Homo sapiens: one gene and its partners. The protein of the gene in region 1 purifies or fractionates together with the protein of each later gene. This does not show direct contact. Each region holds a gene or a part of one and is shown in the gene's direction. Other genes may lie near its edges.

Region 1 (3,534 bases):
GAGCAAGAATGGAGGCCCCACTGGTGAGTCTGGATGAAGAGTTTGAGGACCTTCGACCCTCCTGCTCGGAGGACCCGGAGGAGAAGCCCCAGTGTTTCTATGGTTCATCTCCCCACCATCTCGAGGACCCCTCCCTCTCCGAGCTTGAGAATTTTTCTTCCGAAATAATCAGCTTCAAGTCCATGGAGGACCTCGTAAATGAATTTGATGAGAAGCTCAATGTCTGCTTTCGGAACTACAACGCCAAGACCGAGAACCTAGCTCCCGTGAAGAACCAGTTACAGATCCAAGAGGAGGAGGAGACCCTTCAGGACGAGGAGTAAGAAGTCTTAATTGCCCTCTCCTGCTTCAGTCGAGAGCCCTGTAGTCCTTGTCTCCTTGACATAGTGCTGGTTTCTGTCTATAGGTTTATGGGCTATTACTTTCATTTTCGTGTTGCCAGCGGAGCAGTGCCCTGGTACTTGCTGTCATAGCTCTATATATGTCCCTTTACAGTCCCCTGAGGAGAACTTTCTTAAATTGAAACCTTAGAGGAATGAAGGTTTTCCTAGATACAAAATGGAATTTCAGGAGCACAGTAAATTTCAGGGTCTGTCTATCTTAAGCTTTCTTTATATCAGTGGAAATCCAGCGAGATATTAGAAATAAAGGCCAGAAAAAATTAATTAACCATGATGGATGAATCTATGTTATTGGACTAATTTGCTTCAAGAAACACCAGAATTTTGAAAATCCCGAATTTTTGACAGCCCCTCAGGCCTGGAGAGTTATCTACAGATGTTAGGATATGTCCACATAAGAAAGCATCTAAACTGAACTGAGAGCACAGCGGGCTACCCTGGACAAAGTAAAGGTGGAAACTAGGTGATGTGGCCTTTGAGTATGCAGATTCCTTGTATCACTTGCTCGCTACTTTCTAGGGTCTTAATAGTAGTCAAGAAAAGGGATCTGAGAAAAGTACTCTTTCAGGAGGGACTAGAAAGAGAAGGGGGTGATATGTTACACAAATTAAAGAAGGATGTCTTAGGCATTTAGTAAAAATTCAGTGGTTCCCCGCTATCCTCGGGGGATGTGTTTTTTTGTTTTGTTTTGTTTTGTTTTTTTTTGAGATGAAGTTTCATTCTATCGCCCAGGCTGGAGTGCAATGGCACAATTTTGGCTCACTGCAACCTCCACCTCCCAGGTTCAAGCTATTCTCCTGCCTCAGCCTCCTGAGTAGCTGGGACTACAGGTGTGCGCCACCATGCCCGACTAATTTTTGTATTTTGAGTAGAGATGGGAGTTTCACCATGTTGGCCAGGCTGGTCTCGAACTCCTGACCTGGTGATTTGCCCGCCTTGGCCTCCCAAAGTGCTGGGATTACAGGCGTGAGTCACCACACCTGGCCCATGGTGGGGGATATGTTTTAAGACCCCCAGTTAATGCCTGAAACCGCTGCTAGTACCAAACCCTAATGTTTTTTCCTGTATGTACGTACATATGATAAAGTTCAGTTTATAAGTTAGGCACAGTAAGAGACTAACAACAGCTCACAGCAAAATAGAGCAATTATAACAATATATTGTAATAAAAATTATGTGAATGTGGTCTCTCTTTCTCTCTCTCTTTCAAAATATTTCATTGTACTGTACAGCAGATAACCGAGCCCTGGGAAAGCAAAACCACAGATAAGGGGGGACTACTGTCTACATGAGTTCCCTGCAGAGATACAATATGCATCCATTGTTCTTAGCTATCACACAAGAAATGTCAAACGTCAGGGAAGTCTGAAGCACCTGTGCTTTTGTTTCCCTTTTTGTGGATTTGAGTGGGAAGAATGGCCCACAAATAATGGGGTAAGAGGCACGTCCTAGAGGATTGGAACCTGACTGTATTTGGGAGAGGGTTGCTTATTTGATGACTACTGTAAGACTCTACTTTTACACATAGAGGGGCCAAATATCTGTCTGATTCACTCTTACAGCCCCACTGTCTAATACAGTGCAATGTGCAAATAATATTTTTGAATGAAATATTGAATATCAAATAAACTAGATGAGTGATAATAGCTAGTAGCCTTGTATGTACATGTAATATATTTCTAAGCCCACACCATTTCCTTCTTTTCTTTTTAATTAATGCTGGCCGGAAGGTATGATCACAGAGAACATTTCATTCTGCTGACTAGTACTATAGCTGTGGGCTATGTGTTTAAATTTTAAGTTTCAAACAGATTCTTTTTAGATTCTGAGCCTGTTATCTGCTCAACATTTATAAGTCAAAAAAGAATGGCTCTGGGGGTTTATTATGCCGAATATTTTTTCGTTCTAGTGCACCAGCCAATGAACTAGAAATACAAAGACTATGAATTCTAATTTTGGTACTCTCTCTAACTCGCTGTGTGACCTTGGGCAAGTCATTTAACCCTGGTTGACTGTGTAGGTCCTCATCTATGAAACCTCCAGAGCTCAATCTTGATGAAGTGAGGCTAAGGACTTGTAAAGAACCTAATTTCTTACCTCACCCAGGATGCCCAGGTGCTCTGAAAATGACATTTCAAGATGCGTCCCATTCCTTTTGCTTCCAACAAATCATTTCCCCCCTATCAAAACCCCTCCTCTGCCTCATTAAGGATGAAGGCCCAATGAGCAGATTCTTACTGTCTTCTAGCACATTAGAAGAGGCCACTCAATGTTAATTACCATCACATGGGATTATTGGCCTCCTCAGCCTGATTTTTCTGACTTGACTGCCTCATTGACTGCCTCAGTTAAGAGACCAAAGATTGAATAATTCCTTCGAGATAAGGTATAATTTGGGGACAGTGTAGCGGGAGGAAGCTGGGAAGAGAAAAATTAACACAACACTTTCTAGGCATTCAGTTCTAACCCCTCTTTATAATTTAAAATAAAAATCAGAATTCTGTTACACACTTTGTTTCATAGACACTATCCAGATATTTCAACTGTGAAATTATGGCTAAGTAAAGGAAAAGGGTGACTTAATATCTCACCTGACTACACTTCTCCTGAACATAGCTCTAATGTTATTGTTATAAACTTGTTCCGGTTTAGTATTTAGAGGGCTGTTTCATCCACAAATGAGTGAAAAGTGCTGTGGATGGGTTAGAGGTAAATAATAGAAGCTTAAAACAAAAGCAGGGAAATACTTGGTTAAACTGCCTCCTTAAAGACAGCACAAATCATAGAGCAAATGTAGTGATTCCCTTAGAAGCTTTCTTTAGTCTTCATTTGGAACTATTTAGCCAAGAGGGGAGTTGGCTAAGATTTGTCAACTTATCTCTGATCTGTCAGGGCATGGAAGTTCTAGGCATTAAAGGAGAGTCAGATTTGAATACACATTTTTTGGTTTTGCATTCAAGAAATATCCCAGAATCTCTTCTTTGTGTATATGTGACCACCCTCTTCCTTTGCCATAAGAGATTGGGCCTGGAGGTCACAGCCTCTTAGGGGTCACTACAAAATGGAAATTGACGGCCCTCAGCTTACCTCCTACGTCACTGGGGATCCCTATCAGCCCTCTTACGAGTACCCT
Region 2 (3,534 bases), on another chromosome or scaffold:
GCCGTCTCAGCAAGCACGGTGCCTCTGCTCGGTTGTTTCCTCACACAGGTCAAGCTGAGCGGGAAAACCGGCCGCCGGGCAGACATCGCTTTGATTGAAGGCAGCCTTCTCGTGATGGCCGTCGGGGAGGCTGCCCTCAGGTGAGAGTCTGCCTTTCCAGTGCCCCTTGATGAGAGTTCCCTGAGGAACAGGCTCCTCTAAGTCAGCTTTGTGTTGGAATGGAGCATATGTAAAATGCACATATGATGCTGAGTGCTCTCATACTGGACGTACCCATTCACCAGCTCCCAGACTGAGGAGCTGAGCATTAAGAGACCCCAAGAGTCCCTGCCCGCCCCACTGCACTCCCTCGGGGCTCCCCTTACCCCCAGGTGGCCCTGCCTTGGTGTTTGCCCGTGGAATCTCTTTGCCTGGTTTTTCGGAGTGTGGCATAACTAGAATCAGTCGTTGTGGTCTCTGCTGCCTGCTGCGTTAGCTCAGTGTGCTGTCCGGGGCCATCTCGTGCTCTGTGTGGGGCTGCAATTCCTGTGTTCTCTTGGCGACCTCCTGCCATATACAAACCACCATCTATCGGCAACGGCTTTCTTTCATTAGAAACAGGACATAAAATGTCCCAAATGTAACAGCAGTGTTCGTTTTCATATCAGGAGTCTGATGAACTATGTCTTTTTCCTGACTTTTAATGTTTGCTCCACAGGTTCAAAAACCCCTCAGAGGGAAACGCCACTAACACAGGCCCTCCATGGGGCTTGCTTTCTTCTGTTGTAGATTCTGGGACATAGAACGAGGAGAGAATTATATACTGAGTCCAGATGAGAAGTTTGGCTTTGAGAAAGGAGAGAATATGAACTGTGTGTGTTACTGTAAAGTCAAAGGTGAGGCTTCCTGGCCTGGCACAAGAGAAACAGAACCAACCACAAGCATTGTGCGCCGGCTGCAAAATAATGGTAGTGAAACGTGGAGGCTACTCACACAATGGTAACTTGGTAACTCACAGCCATTCAAATAGTCGGGCAAGGGCAAGCAAGCAACGGCAGAGCTTTGTGATCCCACATGAAGGCCAGGGGGTTTGGTTAGAAGCATGACAACCTGCATCCCAGTACTTGGGGAGGCTGAGGAGGGAGGATCACTTGAGCCCAGGAGTTCAAGACCAGCCTGAGCTACATAGTGAGACCCCGTCTCCACAAAAAATACAAAAATTAGCCAGGTGTGATGGTGTACAGCGGTGGTCCCATCTACTCAGGAGGCTGAGGTGGGAGGATTGCTTGAGCCTGGGAGGTTGAGGCTGCAGTGACCTAAGATGGTGCCAGTGCACTCCAGTCTGTGTGACAGAGCGTGACCCCATCTAACAAGAAGCAAACCGATTCCTGCTCATTGATCTCTGTTCCCTCCTGAAATGCCACGGGAAGGACAGTGCAGGAAGTGTGTGTGTGTGTGTGTGTGTGCATGCATGTGTGTGTATGTGTGCATATGCACATCCAGAGCACAGGAGACTAGGAGGTGAGCCAGAGCCGCGTCTCTAGTGCCTGCTGAGTGCTGAGCATGGGGCAGCCCCGAGCCAGGCCAACTGGCCTCTAGGAAAGCTGGGAGAGCAGCATCCCCCACCACCCCCGCACTGGCACTGTGAGGTCAGGGCAGCAAGGACCTGGGCAGAAAGATGCAGCCAGGGATGAGGTGGAGAGGCACCAGACTGGGCGAGGGCTGATGCTTTGAAGAAGGGGGTTAGAGAACAGAGCTTGTTGCTGTTTTGTTCCCTTTTTTTAACTCTGTTCACATGCAGTTTGTTTCTACCTGTAGGTCTTCTGGCCGCTGGTACCGACAGAGGGCGAGTAGCCATGTGGAGGAAAGTACCAGACTTCCTGGGCAGCCCCGGGGCAGAGGGCAAGGACAGGTGGGCCCTTCAGACCCCTACCGAGCTCCAAGGAAACATCACGCAAATCCAGGTACAGCCTCCAAGGGTGTTCGGTGCACTCATTTTCTGCTGCATGAAAGTGGAGACCATGGCCGGGCGCGGTGGCTCACGCCTGTAATCCCAGCACTTTGGGAGGCCAAGGCGGGTGGATCATGAGGTCAGGAGATCGAGACCATCCTGGCTAACACGGTGAAACCCTGTCTCTACTAAAAAATACAAAAAATTAGCCGGGCGTGGTGGCGGGCGCCTGTAGCCTCAGCTACTCAGGAGGCTGCGGCAGGAGAATGTCGTGAACCCAGGAGCTGGAGCTTGCAGTGAGCCGAGATTGTGCCACTGCACTCCAGCCTGGGAGACAGAGTGAGACTCCGTCTCAAAAAAAAAAAAAAAAAAAAAAGAAAGTGGAGGCCATAAATGACTCTGAACCTATTTTTATCAGTTATTCAACTTAAGACTATGTGAAAATAACAATAATAAGACATTTTAAAAGACCTTTTGGATTTCAGAATTGCAGATAAGAGATTGTGGACCTGTATTAGTTATAATATGTATCTACCCACGAACCCATCCCTCCCTCTCCATCTCTCTCTATCTGTATGAAAAAGAGCTTTACTGAGATATAACTCATGATATATACAAAGTGGTTTTTGGTATATTCACAATTTTACAAACATCACTGCAGTGAATTCTAGAACAGTTTCAGCGCCACAAAAAATCTGTACCTTTTAGTGGTCGCTCTTATTTTCCCCTCTCCAGCCCTTGGCAGCCACTAATCTACCTCCTCTCTCTAAGGATTTGCCCATTCTGGATGTTTCATGGAAATGGAATCACACAACACCTGGTCTTTTGTGCCCGGCTGCTCCCACTGAGCTGAGGTTTCAAGGCCCCTCCAGATTGTAGCCTGTGTCAATGCTTTGCTCCTTTTCATGGCTGAATCACATTCTCTGCTGTGAACAGACCACGTTTTCTTTCTCCATTCATCAGTTGATGGACATTTGAATAATGCTGTTACGAACACTTGTGTACACGTTTTTGTGTGAGGATGTTTTAATTTCTCTGCAGCATTTGGTTCTTTCTTATGATTTCTCTCTGTTCCTGTTCTCTACCTGATGAGACACTGTCGTTGTAGCTTCCTTCACTTCACCAGGCTGGTTTCCTTCAGCTCCTTCACCACGTTTCCAGTGGCTGCTTTGAAGTCTTTGCTAAGTCCAACATCTGAGCCCTTTCAGAGCAGTTTCTGATGTCTGGGTTTTTTCCTATATGGAATTTATACTTTCCTATTTTGCATAGGTCTTTATTTATTTTTAGATAGATTTAGAAGTTTAATATAAAATTATGAAACCAACATTTCACATCAGCAGAAGAAAGCTGGATAATTTAATCCATTATGTAAACTTCCTGTCTGTTTATAAAAAACATAAACATCCCTATGTCACACTCAGAAAAGTGTGTCCCACTCAGAAAAACTCTAGAAAACGCTCTTCCCATCAGAACAGACATACCAGTGCTGCCTGTCCAATCACAACCCTTGAGCATCAGTATCTTGAAGTCTTTCTACACAGCATACTCTTTACCTTTATAAGACTTTTCTTATAATGTCTTATAAGATCATTTTTTAAGTCCGG
Region 3 (3,411 bases), on another chromosome or scaffold:
GCTGGATTCTGTGTCCTCATTAGTCTAACGAGTCTACTCTGTTGCCCACATCACCTCCCATTAGGACCACTATGCCCTTTTAAAAAGTGGTCTTTATAAGATGTAAGTATTATGACACCCTTCTGCATACAACTATTCAATGGCTTTTGATTAGCCTTAGGATAAAAATCCCGTCCTGCCGCACCGACTTGTCCATCTTGTGGGTAGCCACTTGTTACTACCTCTCTCAGTGTCCTTCCCAGACATGCTGCTTCCACTCCTCTCCCCTCAGATCCCCGTTTTGCTTAGTTACTTCCTCCTCATCTTTCAGGTCTCAAAGTAGTTGTCCCTTCACTGAATGCACCGACAACCTGGCCCAGTAAAGTTACTTTGTCGTCTGCGCCCAAATAATCCTACCCTTCCATCTGCTACATTCCTTAAATCTGCAATCCCTTGTTCAAAGCCTGCAAAAGAGCATGAGCTCCTTGAAGCAAAGACAGTATTAGTCATTTTTAATGTAAAGTATAAAAGAAAAGGAAATACATGTGTTCATTCATCTCACAAATACGTTTTTTTATTGCCTGTTATATACCAAGCACTGCTTTAGGCCCATTTAGCAGTGAGTCTGCCCTTGCGTAGGTTATATTGTAGTGGAGGAGAGAGTTCATAAACAAACAAAGTATGTTAAGTGCTAAGTGCCTCAGAGAAAAATAAAGCCAGAGAAGCGGATAGAGAATGTTAGGCAGTAGGATGTGTGGCATTTTAGAGATAGGGTGGTCAAGGAAGATGTAAGGCGGTAACACCCTGGTGGAGGCAGGAAGATCTGGGGGAGAGTGTTCTAAGTAGAGGGAACCACAGAAGTAAAGATTGAGGCAGGAACGATCTGAGCTTGTTCATGAAATGGCAAGAAGGTTGGAATGGTTAGAAGAGCATGAGTCAGGTGGAAAATGAGGTCCCAGATGCAGATAAGTATGATCATGTCAGTGACGTAGAGCGTGGTAGGGGTTTGGATTTCTAAGTGGGATAGGAACCCACTGGAGGTTTGAACTCAAATCTAGATCATTGGAAAGTTCAGAAGCAAGCAGAATACCTTGTGCAACATAATCCAGCCATTGACATTCTCAAAAGATACATCCAAAGACCTTTACAGATTCCCTAAGTGTGACTACAGGACTTTCTCTACAAGTCCCTGTCTTTTCTCTAAATACATAATCATGTTTATGTATATATACTCAATCTACAAGCTAACTCCATTTTATACTTTGATATTTTTCTCTCACTTAATTGCCAACTTTTCAAAACAATGGAAGATTTTTCAAATTCCTTTCTTATAGTTTTAGTATGTGCAATCCTAGGTACAGCACAGCCCATTTGTAATGAGATAAGAGTGGTAGGTGGTAGTGAGCTACGCTTGCTCAGTAGTAGGCTGAAAAGATTCAAATTAATGTCTTATCAGAATTACAAATTACACATCTTTGTAGGTGTCCTGAAGAATAGTTGAAAACATTAAATCCATGGATGTCAAATGTCTTTATTTCGATATAGTTAAAATTAATATTTGCCATGGTGAATCTGAGATAGGAAAAATATTTTAAGATAATTTCAGACTTCTGGAAAAGTTCCAAGAATAGTCAAAGAATTTCCATTTTCTTAAACCAGATTCCAAATATCAACATTTTATCACATTTGCTTTATCATTTCTTTGCTAGCATACTTTATTCTCTAAATTATTTGAGACTAAGAACAAATGTGATGTTCCTTTACTCCTAAATGTCTTAATACGTATTTCCTAAAACATGGACATCCTCTTACATAACCACAGTGCAGCTATCAAAATCAGGAAGTTAATACTGAAGTTATTTTCCAATCTAAAGACCCTACTCAGATTTTGCCACTTATCTCAGTAGTGCTTTTTATCACAAAGAAAATCTTAGATCACATATTGCATATAGGACTGGGGGTTGTGGTTCACACCTGTAATCCCAGCACTTTGGTAGGCCAAGGTGGGCAGATCACTTTAGGCCAGGAGTTCGAGACCAGCCTGACCAACATGGTGAAACCCCATCTCTACTAAAAATACAAAAATTAGCTGGGCATGGTGCCGCACACCTGTAATCCCAGCTACTCAGGGGGGCCGAGGCACAAGAATCGCTTGAATCAGGTAGACGGAGGTTGCAGTGAGCCAAGATTGAGCCACTGGACTCCATCCTGGGTGAAGAGCAAGACTCCATCTCAACAACAACAAAAAGAGGAGGCAGATTTCTGTTCAATAAGTGACATGCATTTCCATCAGTGATAGCTGATCAGTTGTGTAACAGGCTATCTTTGAGGAAGTGAGCTCTCAATCATTGGAGCCAATGATAACAGCATAGCTATAAATGGGATTCCTTCCTTGTGAGAGATTAAATTTAAATTCTGTGATTCTGTACATTAACTAAAAACAGTGTGCTGCAAAATATTACCACTCTGAAAATGACGGTGAGGAAGAATGTTTTTCTAAGTCTGAGGTTCCCAAACTTCCTTGGATCACGATGCCCTTAGTGTCTTAGTAATTTTTTCACAGTATCGGAAGACAAAAAATTTATTATGTTACAGATTCCTTTATGTTATTTCCCTTGCAACTTTAAAATATTCTGAGGTGCTATCGTGCCCAGCATAGCACCAGACATTCAGCTCACAGTTTGAGAACTGTGGATATAAGCAAAGACCTTAAATTGCGTGTCCTCTGGCATCATGACTTAAGATTTGCACGCATGTAAACAAAGGCTGCAAAGAAACACAAAGTAAAAGCAGTACATTTGGCATATAGATGATTTTAAAATATTTAAAACCTTTTAAATCATGTTCTTCTCCTGCTTTATTCTGTGGGTGCTATCAAGGCCCTTGTTTTTCTTAGTTCCTTTCTACAGGAAAGAGCTGTACAAATAACATAAGGCTTTCAAACTCTGGGGCAGTAACAATTCAAGGAATCTTCTAAGGAACCTGGCGTTTTGCGATGGAAATGAACTGTGTTCTCTTTTAGGACCATAGAATTTTTTGGCTGATTACAGGAATTATGTTCATGGGAAGTGGCCTCATCTGGAGGCGCCTGCTTTCATTCCTTGGACGACAGCTAGAAGCTCCATTGCCTCCTATGGTATGAAGGATATGGTTCACGGCGGTATTGTGGAAGGGTTATGATCATGGGCCCTAAAGTCAGAGCGCCTGGGATTAAGTTGTCACAGGCACTATGGCCCTTGCGAGTTGCTTTCTCAAACTTCCTTCAGTTTCCCTATCTGTCAGTTAAGTCGGTATTACCTGCTTCATAGGGTTATGGGAAGAATTAAACAATATGTGTAAAGCACTTACTAGCACACTGCCTAACACAATAAGTTAGAAATATAATTTGTGTAGAACTCTGACAACATACATTTAAACAGATGTTAGTAATTC
Region 4 (3,534 bases), on another chromosome or scaffold:
CTGCTGGGAGGTGGGAGGCTGCTGGGAGGGCACCGGATGCCGGGGCCTTGCAACCTGGCAGAGGCTGTGCTGCTCAGGGAAGCAAGGTGGCCCTGGGGTGAGGCGGGGGGCTCAGAGGAAGGGGAGCCCTCAGGAGGAAGTGTTGGGGGCAACTGCCAGAGAGCCCGGCCACTGCCCAGTGCCCATCCGGAAGCTCAGCAGGGAGTGGGCTTGGAAGTGGGCAGGGGCATGGTGGCGCCGGCAGCATCCTATTTTGCAGATGAAGGGCGCCCTAATGGAGATCATCCAGCTCGCCAGCCTCGACTCGGACCCCTGGGTGCTCATGGTCGCCGACATCTTGAAGTCCTTTCCGGACACAGGCTCGCTTAACCTGGAGCTGGAGGAGCAGAATCCCAACGTTCAGGATATTTTGGGAGAACTTAGAGAAAAGGGTATGTTGTGCTGCTTTAATTCATGTTGGGTGGAGGGAAATGGATCTTTCTTGAAAAATTTTTTTCTGAAATGAATTTGATTTTTAGACCTTTACGTTTTTCCGTGTGTCCTGGTCCCTAGAATATTAACTGTATATGCACCATCCTCCCCCGTAAGCTGCTGCCTGGCTTTTGCCATCTTTGAAAACAAACTCCAAACAGCCCACAGGCCCCATCCTCACTGCTGCGGTGTCAGTGGGAGGCTGTGTCACGCCACTCGCCGTCTCTCTCTGGTCGGCTCCGTGAGGGTAGGGGCTCTGCCCATTCAGGTGGTATCTGTAGATCCTAGGTTCTAGGGCCCAGAGCATTCCCTGGCCCAGAGTACATGCTCAGAAATGCATGTTGAAAATATCAACGATTTAGTTGTTTAAATGTGAACTGAAAGTCACTTAGAAAATATTCACAAGGCTGGGCTCCGTGGCTCACTCCTGTAACCCCAGCACTTTGGGAGGCTGAGATGGCCAGATTGCTTGAGCCCAGGAGTTCGAGACCAGCCTGGGAAACATAGCAAGAACCCATTTGTACAAAAAATAAAAATTAGGTGGGCGTGATGGCACATGCCTGTCCTCCCAGGTACTTGGGAGGCTGAGTCAGGAGGATCACTTGAGCCTGGGAGGCCAAGGCTGCAGTGAGCCATGATCGCGCCACTGCACTCCAGCCTGGGTAACAGGGTGAGAATGTATCTCTTAAAAGAAACAACTATTTGTAGATGGATTTGAAGAACATGTCTTGATGGGATGCTTGATGCTTGTGCTTTTCTGAGTTTCTCTCCTGCTTTGGACAATTGGAACTGGCTCCTCAGAGCCCAAACGTTGTGCCCCAGCTCCTTCAAGGGCAGCACCCAGAGAGACAGGGTTGTGGGATGGAGACATCGAGGCTGCACACTCCTGCAGGGGCCCTGCTGGCCACCCCCCTGCAAGTGGCACCTCTCCCCACCTGTGAGGTCACACACACCACACAGATGCCTCTGGAGCAGTGGTCTGGACAGGTCCACCCCACCCCACCCGTTCGTGTCTCAGGAGTGTCCCGCGGGCAGGAAGGCTGAGGCCGGTGAACTCTCATGTGCCTGCCTGTGCTTTTTCTCCAGGTGGGGCACGTAGCCAGTTCAGGTGGGAGGTCGCCTGTCCCTCGTGGGGCAGTTTCTGGGATCTGAACCGTGGGTGAGCACACAGGCTGAGGAAATGGATGTGGGCAGTTTGGATGAGGGCCAGGGTTCCAGGAGAGACCACCAGCCTGGCTACCCTCGGGGACGGGAAGAGAGAAGCCACAGATCGGGGGTCCTTCTTACGTGGGGGTGGGATCTGTTAACATTTCATGTTCTACAAGTGTCTGGAGCCCTCCAGGAATCACTGTATCTATGTCCGCCTGTGGTTCTTGGTGTCCGCGGTGCCAGAGGTTTCCAGTTTACAGCCCTCTCAAGGCATGCCCGCCTCTCAGGCATTCCTGTTCTGCAAATGCTCCTGGGTGTTCTGCTGGAGCCGTGGGGAGTCAGTCTCGAGGACCTCAGGGGACAGCCGAAGCTCCCATGACCTAACCCTAACTGAGGAGGGTGTGGGGCTGGGCAGCCGCCAGCTCCTCTCAGCCGGGAGGTCTGCGGCCTGGGCGCCCCTAACTTCATGTGGTTCTTACCGGCAGTGGGTGAGTGTGAAGCGTCTGCCATGCTGCCACTGGAGTGCCAGTACTTGAACAAAAACGCCCTGACGACCCTCGCGGGACCCCTCACTCCCCCGGTGAAGCATTTTCAGTTAAAGCGGAAACCCAAGAGCGCCACGCTGCGGGCGGAGCTGCTGCAGAAGTGTGAGTGGCCGCGGCCGCCATCGGGCATTGTCTTTGTAGTTTCCAGTCATAGGTTTCTTAGGTTCTAAGGTACCAAGACTGCCCCTTCAAGGTGGCGTTCTGGGCCAGGCATGGTGGCTCACACCTGTTGGGAGGCTGGGGCAGGTGGGTCGTTTGAGCCCAGGAGTTTGAGACCAGCCAAGAAACCCCATCTCTACCAAAAGTACCAAAACATTAGCCGGGCATGGTGGTGCGTGCCTGTGCTCCCAGCTACTCGGAAGGCTGAGGTAGGAGGATCACCTGAGCCCACGAGGTTGAGGCTGCAGTGAGCTGTGATCACACCACTACACTCCAGCCTGGGAGAGAGTGAGACCCTGTCTCAAGAAAAAGAAGATAAAGTTCTGCATAAAGTTTTTTGTTAGAAGTTTATCACTATATTAAACTTTATGTTCTGAAAACATGCTTTAAAAACTTCAGAATTTAGGCTGGGCATGGTGGCTCACACCTGTAAACCCAGCACTTTGGGAGGCTGAGGCCAGCAGATCACCTGAGGTCAGGAGATCGAGACCAGCCTGGCCCACATGGTGAAACCCCGTCTCTACTAAAAATACAAAAATTAGCTGGCTGTGGTGGTGCATGCCTGTAATCCCAGTTGCTTGGGAGGCTGAGGCAAGAGAATCACTTGAACCTGGGAGGCGGAGGTTGCAGTGAGCCAAGATTGCCCCACTGCACTCCAGCCTGGGCAACAAGAGCGAAACAACATCTCAAAAAAAAAAAAAAAACCCACCAACTTCAGAATTTTAGGTGAAGGCATCTCTAATCTCTGTGACCAAATGAACTCTGTGCCAGCTGAGTCACGCTGTTGGGCACGGTGGGTGCCAGGGTGAATGGCTGGAGGGGCACGTTCCTTACTCTCACGTTGCTGCCTTCTGGAGTGGCGGGTGATCTCAATTCCACTTGAAAGATATTTAATCATTTCAGTTAACGTTTTCCCAAAGCACGACAAAGATTTCAATAACATCGTTTTATTTTGAATGGTTATGGAATTAATATTTATAATGTACATCAATACCCCGTTTCCAGAGAATCCAAATAAAAGGCTGACAGCAGCTGTGCATGGATCTTGGCTGGAACGGGCAGCAGCCAGGGCCCAGCGCTGTCCGGGAGGCTCCGTGCAGCCCCGGGCCCACTGGGTAGCCCAGGAAGGACTCTGCTGGCCCCTTGGGCCCCACCCCCTTTGGAGGCCAGCAGTGGCCACAGGGTCTGCTTTGGGCACTCGGTGTCCCCT

What was found.
Region 2: the proteins of FEZ1 (region 1) and IFT140 purify together in Homo sapiens (affinity purification with mass spectrometry; 2 studies listed by BioGRID and IntAct, with this or other methods). This does not show direct contact.
Region 3: the proteins of FEZ1 (region 1) and MRS2 purify together in Homo sapiens (co-immunoprecipitation; 3 studies listed by BioGRID and IntAct, with this or other methods). This does not show direct contact.
Region 4: the proteins of FEZ1 (region 1) and NELFA purify together in Homo sapiens (affinity purification with mass spectrometry; 2 studies listed by BioGRID and IntAct, with this or other methods). This does not show direct contact.

Annotation. Positions count from the first base shown.
Region 1 is NC_000011.10:125,486,252-125,489,785, reverse strand, and holds part of FEZ1 (fasciculation and elongation protein zeta-1), read left to right. Parts: 5' UTR 1-8; coding exon 9-319; coding exon of another isoform or gene 320-323; exon of another isoform or gene 324-1,587; intron 1,588-3,534. UniProt on the Homo sapiens protein: May be involved in axonal outgrowth as component of the network of molecules that regulate cellular morphology and axon guidance machinery.
Region 2 is NC_000016.10:1,584,539-1,588,072, reverse strand, and holds part of IFT140 (intraflagellar transport protein 140 homolog), read left to right. Parts: intron 1-48; coding exon 49-140; intron 141-768; coding exon 769-875; intron 876-887; exon of another isoform or gene 888-944; coding exon of another isoform or gene 945-978; intron 979-1,797; coding exon 1,798-1,943; intron 1,944-3,534. UniProt on the Homo sapiens protein: Component of the IFT complex A (IFT-A), a complex required for retrograde ciliary transport and entry into cilia of G protein-coupled receptors (GPCRs).
Region 3 is NC_000006.12:24,419,936-24,423,346, forward strand, and holds part of MRS2 (magnesium transporter MRS2 homolog, mitochondrial isoform b precursor), read left to right. Parts: intron 1-3,001; coding exon 3,002-3,115; coding exon of another isoform or gene 3,116-3,121; exon of another isoform or gene 3,122-3,411. UniProt on the Homo sapiens protein: Magnesium transporter that mediates the influx of magnesium into the mitochondrial matrix and regulates magnesium metabolism. Also permeable to calcium, sodium and potassium ions.
Region 4 is NC_000004.12:1,988,441-1,991,974, reverse strand, and holds part of NELFA (negative elongation factor A), read left to right. Parts: intron 1-259; coding exon 260-431; intron 432-2,105; coding exon 2,106-2,267; intron 2,268-3,534. UniProt on the Homo sapiens protein: Essential component of the NELF complex, a complex that negatively regulates the elongation of transcription by RNA polymerase II.